Linked DNA regions of Homo sapiens. The protein of the gene in region 4 interacts with the protein of the main gene of each other region in a pairwise test. Each region holds a gene or a part of one and is shown on either strand. Other genes may lie near its edges.

Evidence for each region.
Region 1: the proteins of CCDC125 (region 4) and UACA interact in binary tests that used the Homo sapiens proteins (3 or more experiments, as listed by UniProt).
Region 2: the proteins of CCDC125 (region 4) and PRPF3 interact in binary tests that used the Homo sapiens proteins (3 or more experiments, as listed by UniProt).
Region 3: the proteins of CCDC125 (region 4) and MYH1 interact in binary tests that used the Homo sapiens proteins (3 or more experiments, as listed by UniProt).

The regions. Positions count from the first base shown.
Region 1 is NC_000015.10:70,662,559-70,666,058, forward strand, and holds part of UACA (uveal autoantigen with coiled-coil domains and ankyrin repeats), read right to left. Parts: intron 2,257-3,500; coding exon 2,104-2,256; intron 1-2,103. UniProt on the Homo sapiens protein: Regulates APAF1 expression and plays an important role in the regulation of stress-induced apoptosis. Promotes apoptosis by regulating three pathways, apoptosome up-regulation, LGALS3/galectin-3 down-regulation and NF-kappa-B inactivation.
Region 2 is NC_000001.11:150,349,033-150,352,532, reverse strand, and holds part of PRPF3 (U4/U6 small nuclear ribonucleoprotein Prp3), read right to left. Parts: intron 3,377-3,500; coding exon 3,315-3,376; intron 1-3,314. UniProt on the Homo sapiens protein: Plays a role in pre-mRNA splicing as component of the U4/U6-U5 tri-snRNP complex that is involved in spliceosome assembly, and as component of the precatalytic spliceosome (spliceosome B complex).
Region 3 is NC_000017.11:10,515,743-10,519,855, forward strand, and holds the start of MYH1 (myosin-1), read right to left. Parts: upstream 2,801-4,113; 5' UTR 2,778-2,800; intron 2,529-2,777; 5' UTR 2,498-2,528; intron 941-2,497; 5' UTR 901-940; coding exon 697-900; intron 601-696; coding exon 457-600; intron 341-456; coding exon 184-340; intron 1-183. UniProt on the Homo sapiens protein: Required for normal hearing. It plays a role in cochlear amplification of auditory stimuli, likely through the positive regulation of prestin (SLC26A5) activity and outer hair cell (OHC) electromotility.
Region 4 is NC_000005.10:69,315,802-69,319,301, forward strand, and holds part of CCDC125 (coiled-coil domain-containing protein 125), read right to left. Parts: intron 1-3,500. UniProt on the Homo sapiens protein: May be involved in the regulation of cell migration.

The DNA.
Region 1 (3,500 bases), on a different chromosome or scaffold from region 4:
TCCTAAGTCAAAAGAACAAAGCTGGAGGCATCATGCTACCTAACTTCAAACTATACTACAAGGCTACAGTAACCAAAACAGCATGCTACTGGTACCAAAACAGAGATACAGACCAATGGAACAGAACAGAGCCCTCAGAAATAATGCCACATATCTACAACTATCTGATCTTTGACAAACCTGACAAAAACAAGAAATGGGGAAACCATTCCCTATTTAATAAATGGTGCTGGGAAAACTGGCTAGCCATACGCAGAAAGCTGAAACTGGATCCCTTCCTTACACCTTATACAAAAATTAATTCAAGATGGATTAAAGACTTAAATGTTATACCTAAAACCATAAAAACCCTAGAAGAAAACCTAGGCAATACCATTCAGGACATAGGCATGGGCAAGGACTTCATGTCTAAAACACCAAAAGCAATGGCAACAAAAGCCAAAATTGACAAATGGGATCTAATTAAACTAAAGAGCTTCTGCACAGCAAAAGAAACTACCATCAGAGTGAACAGGCAACCTACAGAATGGGAGAACATTTTTGCAATCCACTCATCTGACAAAGGGCTAATATCCAGAATCTACAATGAACTCAAACACATTTACAAGAAAAAAACAACCCCATCAACAAGTGGGCGAAGGATATGAACAGACACTTCTCAAAAGAAGACATTTATGCAGCCAAAAGACACATGAAAAAATGCTCATCATCACTGGCCGTCAGAGAAATGCAAATCAAAACCACAGTGAGATACCATCTCACACCAGTTAGAATGGCAATCATTAAAAAGTCAGGAAACAACAGGTGCTGGAGAGGATGTGGAGAAATAGGAACACTTTTACACTGTTGGTGGGACTGTAAACTAGTTCAACTATTGTGGAAGTCAGTGTGGCGATTCCTCAGGGATCTCAAAGTAGAAATACCATTTGACCCAGCCATCCCATTACTGGGTATATACCCAAAGGATTATAGATCATGCTGCTATAAAGACACATGCTGCTATAAAGACACATATGTTTATTGCGGCACTGTTCACAATAGCAAGGACTTGGAACCAACCCAAATGTCCAACAATGATAGACTGGATTAAGAAAATGTGGCACATATACACCATGGAATACTATGCAGTGATAAAAAAGGATGAGTTCATGTCCTTTGTAGGGACATGGATGAAGCTGGAAACCATCATTCTCAGCAAACTATCGCAACGACAAAAAACCAAACACTGCATGTTCTCACTCATAGGTGGGAACTGAACAGTGAGAACACATGGACACAGGAAGGGGAACATCACACACTGGGGCCTGTTGTGGGGTGGGGGGAGGGGGGAGGGATAGCATTAGGTGATATATCTAATGTTAAATGACGAGTTAATGGGTGCAGCACACCAACATGGTCCATGTATACATATGTAACAAACCTGCACGTTGTGCACATGTACCCTAGAACTTAAAGTATAATAAAAATAATAATAAATGTAAACAAGTAATCAGTTATTATTCTATTTTCTTGATGAGAAAACCAAGAGTTAAAGGGAATGTTCCTTGCCACTTCCTTGTAAGTGGCAGGACTTAGACCAGACCTTCCAACATTAGCTTCTAAATCCAGGCACTTATCCTTCTATATAAGGTATAAAACCATAGGAATGCCTCTTTATTCACAAAGATAAAAGATTATTTTAAAACCTCCTTTAGTTTAGTGGACCAATATTTTAGAGAGCACCCTGCAATGAGAAAGATGCTGGATTTGGAGTCAGCCAGTTCCAGGTTTATACCCCAGCTGAATGACCCCAGGCATCAAATATGTTATTCTTTGTTTCCTTAAGAATTAAATGGAGGGAATAAATCTGCTTTGTGAGATCATGATGAAGATAAAGTTTATAGATAAAGTACGTAAAATGTTTAATATGGTGCCTGGTGTATAGTAGGCATCAAATAAGTATTATTACACCACCAGTATAGGTAACTTTTCGCATATAAAAATAATTATATTCTTGGATCCGAACATAGCTACAGAGCACTTTAATTTCTAAATGAGCCTTACAAACTAACTACAGGGAGCCAGCACATATTCCTGCAAAGCCCCGTGTGCCTGGTTACTCACGGCCAGCTGTTGCTCCAGAGATTTCACTTGGTGCTGCAGAGTGTCAATCAGCTGGCTCTGCCTCTTGGTGGGGTTCCCACTTGTGTAGGTGAGTTGGGAAAGGCCATTGAGTGCCTGTTTTAATCTTTCCACATCATTAAGCAGTTCAGTTATCTTTAAAAAAATGTTGTAGGAGAAATATATTATTCACTTATCATGTACAATGAACATCTTTGTACAGAAATCATTCCTTTTTGGAGACAGAAGCTTTATCTTTATACACCAGAAAATTGAGGTATGAATATTGCCAAGACTGTTACCAAGGATGTATACAATATGTAATTTATAATTAAATCCCTCTCCAGAAATTATTTACAAAAGCAATACCAAATTAAGAATAAATATTACATATATCCTAAGATGTGAGTATAAACATAGTCTTACTTTTAGCTAATATATAAGCATCTACGAAGGCACATGAACTATCTTCCAGGTAACATATGGAACACAGGAAGGGAAGGGGGATTCCCAGCAACAAAGTGTGAAAAGTAAAAGGGTGTGGCCCGTGTAAGTCTAGGATTAACATATGTTCCTTTTTCCTTTCAAGAGTTGTATTATTTAAGACCACTTTGTTGTAGAGAGAAAAAAAACAAGGAGGCTTGTTTATAGGAATAGGAAGTGCCTAGAAACATAGCATTTTTCCACCCTGCTTTAAAGTCAGACAGAGTCAACTTGTATGAGCTTGGCTAATTTACTTTTCTGAGCCTTAGATTCCACATTGGTGAAAGGTGGACAATCTTTCAGAGTTAAGAAAATCAGGTTGGGCACAGTGGCTCACACCTATAGTCCCAACACTTTGGGAGGCTAAGGCAGGAAGATTGTTTAAACTCAGGAATTCAAGACCAGCCTGGGCAATAGAGCAAGATACCATCTCCTCCCCCACAAAATTTTTTATTGAAAAATAATAATAGAAAAAAAACAAAGAAAATGAAATGCAATTACATGCACCCGCTCAATAAATGGCAACAAGTAGATATTAATAATTAACTCTTATATATTACTATATATATTCATAGGTACCTTCTGAACAAGCTTAGAGCATTTAAATTCTCAATCACAGAGATGGTGTGCCAGAGGACAGTATGTACAAGTACTTTCCACTGGGGAGGGCAGTCTGTGTCTGTGTTTACTCCACTGTATCCCCAGCACATGACATGCAGAAGGCATTTAATCATTACATGTTGAATGGATAAAACTGCAGCCAATCTTTATATGTCATATCCATAGTAAAAACTTTATGCAACATCAGTGTCAAAAATATTGTTGAGTACCTATTCTGTAAATTGTACCATGAGAATTAAAGCTAAGATGGAAAGTTAAGTTATAAACCCTGCTCATAAAAACTGATTGGGAAGATC
Region 2 (3,500 bases), on a different chromosome or scaffold from region 4:
CTACCACGCCCAGCTGATTTTTTGTATTTCTAGTAGAGACGGGGTTTCACCGTGTTAGCCAGGATGGTCTCGATCTCCTGACCTCGTGATCCTCCCGCCTCAGCCTCCCAAAGTGCTGGGATTATAGGCGTGAGCCACCGCGCCCGGCCTCCTTGGATATTTGTATGAGATTTTACGAATTCATATGCATAAGGCTTTTAGTTTTTTGAAATGAAGTGAGGAATTATTTGCTCTGGTGCCTGGGTGGAACAGCAAGTCAGGAAGAACTATGGAAGGTGGAATGAGATAAACTTATCTCCTACCAGGCCTTAAGGACTAAATCTGAGCCTTCAAAAAGGCCCCAGAAACTATTTATATAAGCAGGAGGCTTTGGGGCCCAGCAACAAAGAACAACTGGGGGCGGGGAACAGAAGAAGAGCAGGTACCAGCAGAGAATTACAACAGAAAAAGACAGTACTGGGCAGAATGGCATTCTTGCCAAAGTTACCAGCAGCAATGGCAGTCATAAAGCAATACCTCAAGAGGCGTTCAGGGAGTAGACTCCAATAAGGAGGCTGGAGCAGAACTTGGCTTATTTCTGAACATGAGAGACAATTCCTGAAAACTAAATTCCTACAACATTAATACTGGTTCTCTAAGAAGCCGGGACTTTTTCAGTAAGTACTCTTCAGAGATAAATAGAAGAAAATTGAAAGATGAGGGTGCTGAGATATGTGAAGGTAGGGCTGGGCACAGTAGCTCATGCCTATAATCCCAGCACTTTGGGAGGCTGAGGTGGGAGGATCACTCAAGGCTAAGAGTTCAAGACAAGCCTAGGCAACATAGTGAGATCCATTTCTAAAAAAAAAAAAAAAAAAAAAAAAAATTAGCCAGGCACAGTGGTGTGGACCTGAGGTCTCAGATACTTGAGAAGCTGAGACTGGAGGATTGCTTGTCCCTAGGAGTTCAAGGCTGTAGCGAGCTATGACTGCGCCACTGCACACCAGCCTGAGCAATAGAGCAAGACCCTATCTCTAAAAAAAAAAGTTGATTAAAAAAAGATAACAAATATGCAGGTGGGAACTTATAAAACAGAGAACAAATACTATGGTTATTATCATCTAATTTGTATGCATAAATTGAAGAATCTGGGATAAGGCAGGATACATGAAAACCTTTTTTTTTAATTTTTATTTTTTGATTGCTCCTTCAGAAGAAAAACTATTAATAGCAATTACCTATAAAGACTGGTCTGAAGAGATCAGCGAATAGGAAGAGACTTTTGTTTTGAGACACAGTCTCGCACTGTCACCCAGGCTGGAGTGCAATGGTGCGATCTCGGCTCACTGCAACCTCCGCTTCCCAGATTCAAGCGATTCTCCTGCCTCAGCCTCCCAAGTAGCTGGGATTATAGGCACTGGCCACCACGCCCCACTAATTTTTGTATTTTTAGTAGAGACTGGGTTTCACCATGTTGGCCAGGTTAGTCTCGAATTCCTGACCTCGTAATCCGCCCACCTCAGCCTCCCAAAGTGTTGGGAGTATAGGCATGAGCCACTGCACCTGGCCTGAGACTTTTTCTTTTTTTTTTTTAAGACAGGGTTTCACTCTGGTGCCCAGGCTGGAGTGCAGTGGCATAGTCACAGCTCACTGCAGCTTCAAACTCCAAAGCTGAAGCAATCTTCCCACCTCAGCCTCTCAAGTAGCTGGGACTACAGGCAGACGCCACCAGGCCAGGCTAATTTTTGTATTTTTTGTAGAGACGGGGTTTCGCCATATTGCCCAGGCTGGTCTTGAACTCCTGAGCTCAAGTGATCCAACCACCTCATCCTCCCAAAGTGCTGGGATTATAGGCGTGAGCCACTGTGCTGGGTCTCAGTAAGTACTCTTCTGTATAATTAGAATTTGTTTCTAATCTTAATAAACATTTACTACTTTTGTAATAATGTACCACTTTTATAATAAAGAATTCATTAATAGAAATAAGCACATTTTACTGCTCGCTTCAGCAGCACATATACTAGAAATAAGCACATTTTAAAAATAGAAGATATATGGCCGGGCGCAGTGACTCATGCCTGTAATCCCAGCACTTTGGGAGGCCAAGGCAGTCGGACCTCAGGTCAGGAGTTCGAGACCAGCTTGACCAATATGGCGAAACCCCGTCTCTACTAAAAATACAAAATTAGCCAGGCGTGGTGGCTCATGCCTGTAATTCCAGCTACTCGGGAGGCCGAGGCAGGAGAATCACTTGAACCCAGGAGGCGGTGGTTGCGGTGAGCTGAGATTGCACCATTGCACTCCAGCCTGGGTAACAAGGGCAAAACTCTCTCAAAAAAAAAAAAAAAGAAATGGAGGGGCTGGGCACAGTGGCTCATGCCTGTAATCCCAGCACTTTGGGAGGCCGAGGCAGGCGGATCACCTGAGGTTGGGAGTTCAAGACCAGCCTGACCAACATGGAGAAACCCTGTCTCTACTATAAATACAAAAATTAGTCGGGCATGGTGGCGTGCACCTGTAATCCCAGCTACTTGGGAGGCTGAGGCAGGAGAATCGTTTGAACCTGGGAGGTAGAGGTTGCGGTGAGCCGAGATCACGCCATCGCACTCCAGCCTGGGCAACAAGAGCAACAAGAGCGAAACTCCATACCGCCCCCCGCCCCCCCGCCCCCAAAAAAAGATATACATGTACTATACCTAAAAGCAAACATGAAAACATTAATACTGGTTTTAATACTGGTTCTCTAAGAAGGCTTCAGGGGTTAAAGAACTAGATAACCATAAAAAATATTCCACTTGAAGAGTGATTCAGTCACATTTTATGAAGCACTATCACATAATTATCTAATTTCATTCTCAAAAACTTGACAATATAGAGAACAATAGCTAAGGCAACAGAATTTGACATTAAGTGTCTTGCCCAGATTGCACAGCTAATAAGCAGCACTGCCCAGCCTCCTAACTTTATATTCTTAAGTCTAGTACTTCCTTCACTATATCCAAAGGTAAATCCAACAACAATTCATTCCCGTTTCCAAGTCTCATATTCATGACTGTGAAATAAATAATTTTCGGTAGAGAATTTGTATTCCTGCTACCAGCAGCACTGTCCACGCACTTCCCCAGATAGCATATACTAAATACTCACGAATTTAATTAAACAGATGATCAGGAAGAATTTACTGCCAACCATTTAAAAATGGATTCCAAAAAGAAACATAAATTATTTAAAACATTATTCACTGATTACATCTTACATTCCATTGCTCCACTCAAATAGTATAAATATTCAGGAGTTGGCTAAAGTTTTACAATGTTTTACAAAGGATCACCTACCTCCCAGACTAGTACACATTTGTTGGTTTTCTTCACAGCTTCCTCATCAGACTCCTCATCATCTGGAAGAGAAATCTTGTTACAGACTTAGACTTGAGATTCAGGTTCTAAACAAATAATATTCAAGTCTACCCAAACTCTCTAAAATATTATCACCCTTTTTATGTGTTGGACCAAGTGTTCTCT
Region 3 (4,113 bases), on a different chromosome or scaffold from region 4:
TAATCAGGAGAGCTGTGTTTTAATACGAGCTTTGACAGTATATACTTCTCTGTGCTTTAGTCACCTCTGCTGAACAACCAGGGGCGTGAATTGGGTTTTTTTCTAAAGGTCTTTTTTTAGTTCTAATATTTTGTGATTATGGATGGTAAAATAATTCATATGAAAACCAGCTGAGCCACTCACCAGTCAGCATGAACTGATAGGCATTGTCAGAGATGGAGAAGATGTGGGGTGGGGCCTCCTGGCGCTTTTTGCCTCGGTAGGCTGTCACCACCTCTGCATTATACACTGGCAACCACTTGTAGGGGTTGACAGTGACACAGAACAAGCCTGAGTAGGTCTGCACCCAAAACAAAAGGGAGGAACAGAATTATTTGATGGGGACCTTAATCATCTACTACTTTTCAAAAACTATTAACTACTCTCATGAGTAGAAGACCGTGAGAAAGAACTCACGTAGATCATCCAGGCTGCGTAGCGCTCTTTGAGGTTGTACAGCACAGCAGGCTCGTGTAGATGAGTCATCATGGCCATGTCCTCGATCTTGTCATATTTGGGAGGGTTCATGGGGAAGACTTGGTCATCTTTCACTGTTACAGTCTGTCCAGTCAAACAAGAGAGGCCAGATCAAAAAGTAAGTGCTAACTTAACCCAAAATGAGGCAGAGTCTAATCAGCTCCAGGTGTTTTTACTCACAGCTCCAGCTTCGGTCTTAGCTGTCACCTTCCCCCCTTCCCTGCTCTGCACTGTTGCTTTCACAAAGGACTCCTTAGGGTCCACCACAAAGACTGATGTCTTGGCATCAAAAGGCTTGTTCTGGGCTTCAATTCGCTCCCTTTCAGACTTTCGGAGGAAAGGAGCAGCCTCCCCAAAAATGGCCATCTCAGAGTCGGAACTCATGGCTGCAGGTTATTGATGGTAGCCCAGTTAAGGACCCTGGCTGGGAGAGGAAGAAAAGAAATTGTAGAAATTAAGAAACTGGACCATTAGATTCACATTTAAAACTTTAAAAAAAAATTTACTGACCAATTGAGTGCTTAGCATTGCATTGGGTATGACCACCTCCCTGGCTTGGTTGAGGATAAAATGTCAGTCTCCTTGTTCTGTGCCAGTGCTGACAGACACTTAATCATGCATTTGGAAAGAGACTGTTGTTTCTGGCTCACCTATTGCAGTCTCTTAGCTGCTTTCTCTGTTTCATTTGTTAGGTATATTAATCTTTATAAGCTGCCTATCATTGGCTTATAGAGAACATAAAGCTATAATGGTGGCAGGATAGTCTCCAGTTCTTTCACTTATAGTTTTTATCTTCCCAACTGGATTATAAGCACCTTGCAGGCAGGGAGCACTCTTCTTTTTATGGTATCCTTCACACCTCTTAGAACAAATGCTGGACACAGAGAAAGGCTCAAAGCTGGCTTGGTGAATTAAAAGAACAATAGGAATATGTTGCTATAATTTTAGGAACTATTCTGTACATGACAGAAATATTTTCATTATAAACTTGGGAGTTACGAAGACTTCCTAATATACAGGAAAGCAGAAATGTGTGGCTCTTTGTTTTGCATTGTTAAAAAATGTTCTGTTATCCATCAATTTCTGTTGTCTCTGTATAATAATTTTGACAAACTCAACTTCTTCACTGATCTTTAGCATTTCTTAAATATTTATTATAAAACGTTATTACCTATGTTTTCTTGCTCTATTATTAACATTTTTATAACAATTTCACAAAACTTGTTCTTTTCAGGATCCCCCTCTTGCCACATTAGCTAGCATTCATTAATGCTGTCAATAATCTTCATGTATATTCTACTTTATAATAATAAAGATACCTTTTCCAGGGAAGCTCATTTGGATACATTTCTCCCATTGAAACTATGTTGACTCAGATAACATAATTAAAATGCTTCATCTTGCTGAATATGCTGACAATCATGTTTCGTATTGTGTGTGTGTATATATACATATGTGTGTGTGTGTGTGTATATATTCGTTAATTTTTATTTTATAGATTGTGAAACAACATGCAGTTAAGCAACTTTTTCCAAGGCAAAGATTCAGACCATTCTATTTATCCAATTAGACATCATCTCTCATAGGTTTTTATATTTATAGTGCTGAGGAAAAGCCATGGTATAGAAAATTTAAATTTTCTCTATAATTGAGTAACACTTTGAAATGTTACATTGCATATTGTAATGCAGTCATTTAAAAGATAAACTACAATGCTGGAAATAGTGAATGAAATTCACTATTGTGAATAAAATTCCCAAGGACTCTGAGAAAGCATTTTCATATATTGCGAGGGATATGAGTTAAGGAGAACCAGTTTCTAAAGTCATTCTCCATTTTTTAAGAGAAGCGTGATCAACCATGAAATGGAAATGATTTTTTTTATCACTTCCCTCACCCCGCCCCTCACCACTGTCCAAACCACTGCAGAAGATTCCTTGCACTCTGTGAGGAATGAGAAAAAAAAAAATCAGAATCTTACCGTAGAGATGCGACCTTAAAGTGGATCAGAACTGTAAGAAAAAGAGCAAACCTCTTCTGATTAAATTATAACAATTCCCGATTATAGAACAATTCTTAACTGAGAACCAGGAAATGACTGGGAAGACTACAACATCTAATTAAAATTGCTACGGAGTAAGCTGGTGCTTCACTGGCAGGGCTGCCAGGGACAGTGGGAGCCAGGATGTGTGGCATGCACGCGGGCAGCCAGACATCCCTTACCGTCCTCCAGACAGAGCCCTGTCCTCACACACACTTACCTTGAAGCTTTATGAGGAGAGACAAGTCATACTCATTCCAAGGGTACTTTTATAGGCTCAAATATGGAAAACACGTAACCTCCTCCTCTTTCTTAAAACATATTTGGCAAAACATGTTTTTGGCATTGAAGGTCTCCAAGCCTAATTCCCCTCATATTAAAGATGTTTGGATATAATTAGAAATATTTCCTCTCATATTGGGTTAAGTATATGAATCAATCTCCTATAAATAATTTGAGTCGTTGGCAATCTTAAAGTTGTTGGCCTTTGGAATGTAAGGTGTTGTTTCAAAGACAGCTAAGTTCTGGAATCCCTGGACTTTGTTGCCTACTGCTCTTCTGTTTCACAGAGTCGCCTGTGTGAAGTCTTTTCAACTGCCTGCGCAGTTACAGATAGTGTACTCGGGAGGAAAACTTCTGCTCTTTAGCAGAGGGTTATAAAAACGTTGCTTTCTCTCAAAAAGATTTCCTTTTTTTTTTTTTTTTTTTTTTTGCAATTTATTGTGCTTTTTCAAAGTTGCTTGGAAATTTAATTTTGAAACTTGCTTCATGAAGAGCAGCCAAAGATAGCTTCTTTTGTTTCCTTCAATCAGTCGCCTCTTATTCATTGTCAAATCATTCCACCGGCACTTCGGACTTGCTCCGAAATTGCATTGCCTTCCAAACAGAGATGTCCTGCTTCTCTCATTTTTTTTTGGTGCCCAAGTTGCTTGTGAAATCTTGTTTCCTCTATGAAACTCAACATAAGAAAATATTGGAAACAGGGTATTTCTCTGTCTAAATATGCAGCATCGATGATTTTTCCTCTATCAGCAGTCCATGGGATATATTTAGTATTTTGCTTACAAACAATACCTGAATATTGTTTTCTATTTTAATTTTTTAAAAAAGTTTATTTTACTGTCTTTGTGGCCTCACGTCTCTGTCTGTCAGCATTGTCTGGCTAGGACTGGGACAACATTTGCTTAATATACCTGGTTTTGCACCCACATCTGTATTATTGTACTTATATCTCAATTGATTTAATGGCTATAGCTTGCCTTATGAAAGGAGATATCTGGATATACTAGTTGTAAAGGTCACATAGTTTTATTACCATAAGGGATCATCTAATTCATCTTTCTCATTTTACTAATAAAGCAACTGAGATCCAAAAAATAGAAGAGAATCTCCACAAATCACACAGCAGTTTAGACTCTGGTCATCTGACTTGCGGTCCAGCGTACTCACTTGTGACACTCTTCTACCTGGGGTAGATTAAAGCCATCAGGAAGGGTATTGCAGGGATGTGCGTCTGAGAGGGCCTTTCCTAGCCATCTATTAGCCTGCTTTGTTAC
Region 4 (3,500 bases):
TAATTTCTTTCCAAAAAGAATGACTAGAAGAGTCCTGTAACTTCAATTATTTGCTCCTTAATGTGATCAACTGAGAATTTAAATTGAGCTTCCTAAGAGCTTCATTTTCCTTTCTGCCTCAACGGCAGTAAAAAAAAAAAAAAAAAAAAAAATTAAAGTGGCAAGTTATAAGCAAGAGTATAGGAAGTAAAAAAAAAATTTTATTGAGAAGAATGTTTGCTTTGAAAAAATATTTCTCAAAACAACTTTCTTTGCTATTCTGAAATTTCATTAACATGACAGTATCTAAGGCAAAACCTAAATCATGTTTGTACTGTGATTGATGATACAGGCTTCCAAGGAGGGCAGAGTGACTCTGGGTTGGCAGTGACAAGTTCTGTTCTATTAATACTTGTGGTAGGCAGAATATGATGTCCACATGCCAATTCCCAGAAGCTGTGAACACATGGCAAAAGGAACTTTGCAGATGTGATGAGATTAAGGATTTTGAGATGGGAGAGTACTCTGGATTATCCAAGTGAGTCCAGTGTACTCATAAGAGTCCTTATACATGAAAGAGGGAGACGAGAAGGTAAATGTTAGAGTGATATGATGTGAGAAAGACTCAGCCATCGTTGGCTTTGAAGATGGGGAGGGGGCCATGAGCCAAGGAATGCAGTAGCCTCTGGAGCTAGAAAAGGCAAAGGAGTAGAGTCTTCCCACTGAACCTCCAGAAGGAACGCACCCTGCCAACACCCTGGCTTTAGCCCACTGAAATTTATTTGGGACTTTTTTTCCCACAGAGAGAGGGTCTTGCTTTATTGCTCAGGCTGCAGTGCTCCTGCATCAGCTTCTCAAGTAGCTGGGACTACAGGTGCACACTACTACACCTGCTAATTTTTAAACTTTTTTTTGTGGAGTGTGGTCTTTCTATGTTGACCAGGCTGGTGTCGAACTCCTGGCCTCAAGTGATTCTCCCACCTCGGCCTCCCAAAATGCTGGGATTATAGGCATCAGCTACCAGACGTAGCCTGTTTGGGACTTCTGACCTACAGAACTGTAAAATAATAAATTTGTGTTGTTTTAAGCCATTAAATGTGTGGTATTTTGGAAATTATCTATTAGTGATAGGGCCAACTTTAATAAAAAGAAAAGTTCATAACCCAACAAAATGGGAACTCATACTATTACTATTTAAATCTTATTTATACCCCAGTGTTTCTTCATGCTGTTTGTTTGTTTGTTTGAGATGGAGTCTTGCTCTGTTGCCCAGGCTAGAGTGCAGTGGTGTGATCTTGGCTCACTGCAACCTCCGCCTCCCAGGTTCAAGTGATTCTCCTGCCTCAGCCTCCCAAGTAGCTGGGATTACAGGCACCTGCCACCATGCCCAGCTAATTTTTTTGTATTTTTAGTAGAGACGGGGTTTCACCATCTTGGCCAGGCTGGTCTCAAACTCCTGACCTCATGATCCACCCACCCCAGTCTCCCAAAGTGCTGGGATTACAGGCATGAGCCACCGCACCTGGCATCTTCATGTTTTTATAAAGGCATCTTAGCATCATGCTCAGTTTCCAACATTTTGCTTTCAAAACAGTATCCATTCTCTATACACAATAAGGAATTGGAAGAAAAATATAAAAATAATCCCATTCTGATTTCAAGAGGGATGTTGAAGGATGGGGATGAACCCTGAGCTACCACGAGCTACCACGTATTTTTGTAAATCTGAAACCATGTTTCTTAAATCACTCTCATGTTGTTCTAATTTGTGTTTGTTCAACTTTGAGGGGAAGTTTCAGAAGAGGAAGTTTTACAACATAGATTACAAAATATTTAGCCAGATAACAGCTGGTGCCATGGTACAGGCATGGGCTTATCCACAGACTCCCGATCATTTTGGAGTTGTAACATTTTATCAAAATACGATGCTAAATTTTATTATTTCCATAAGGTAAGGTATAATTTCTTTTTGGTTATGATAAATTAAGACTAACTGTTTTGACAATTTTTGAGAGTTTCATGACCTCCTAAAATAACCAGAAGCATCTCTGTTCTTCCTGGAACACTCCTTTCCCAAAGATCCACTGCCTTACTCTCCCCTTCATTCTGGTGCTCAGGCCAAGGTGGGAGGACTGCTTGAGGTCAGGAGTTTGAGACCAGCCTGGGTAACATAGTGAGACCTTGTCTCTAGAATTTTTTTTTTTTTTTTTTTTTTTTTTTGAGACTGAGTCTTGCTCTGTCGCCAGGCTGGAGCGCAGTGGTGCGATCTCGGCTCACTGCAACTTCCGCCTCCCAGGTTCACGTGATTCTCCTGCCTCAGCCTCCTGAGTAGCTGGGATTACAGGTGCACGCCACCATGCCTGGCTAATTTTTGTATTTTTAGTACAGATGGGGTTTCACCATGTTGGTCAGGCTGGTCTGAAACTCCTGACCTCATGATCCACCCGCCTCAGCCTCCCAAAGTGCTGGGATTACAGGCGTGAGCCACAGCACCTGGCCGAAAAAATTTCTTTTAAATTAGCCGGATATGGTGGAACATGCCTGTAGTCTCAGCTACTCAGGAGACTGAGGCAAGAGGATTGCTTAAGCCCAGGACTTTGAGGTTGCAGTGAGCTGTGATCATGCTACTGCACTCCACCTTAGTGACACAGTGAGACTGTCTCTTTTTAAAAAAGAAAAAGGCCAGGCACGGTGGCTCATGCCTGTAATCCCAGCATTTTGGGAGGCTGAGGTGGGCGGATCACTTGAGGTCAGGAGTTTGAAACCAACCTGGCCAACGTGGTGAAACCCCATCTCTACTAAAAATACAAAAAAAAAAAAAAATTAGCCAGGCATGGGGGCGGGCACCTGTAATCCCAGCTACTCAGGAGGCTGAGGCAGTAGAATACCTTGAACCCAGGAGGCGGAGGTTGCAGTGAGCCGAGATTGTGACACTGCACTCTAGCCTGGGCGACAAGAGTGAGACTCCACCTCATAATAAATAAATAAAAATAAAAAATAAAAAGAAAAGTAAAAAGAAAAAAAATGTCACCTCCTTACAGAAGCCTTCCTAACCCTGGCCTGAAATACTAGCACCCCATTCCCCATAATCACTCACTATCCCTTCACTTACCACTGCCCAATGTTACACATCTGTTGATTTGCAGGGTTTTGGTTTTTTTTCTTTTTTTTTTTTTGAGACAAAGTCTTGCTCTGTTGCCCAGGCTGGAGTGCAGTGGTACAATTTTGGCTCCACCTCCCGGGTTCAAGCAATTCTTGTGCCTCGGCCTCCCGAGTAGCTGGGACTACAAGCACGTGCCACCACACCCAGCTAATTTTTATACTTTTAGTAGAGATGGGGTTTTGCCATGTTGGCCAGGCTGGTCTCAAGCTCCTGACCTCAAGTGATCCATCCGCCTCAGCCTCCCAAAGTGCTGGGATTACAGGCATGAGCCACTGTACCCGGCCTGCAGGTTTATTTTCTATCTCCTCTATTAGAATGTGAAATCCATGACATTAGGGCCTTTGTCTATTTTGTTTAC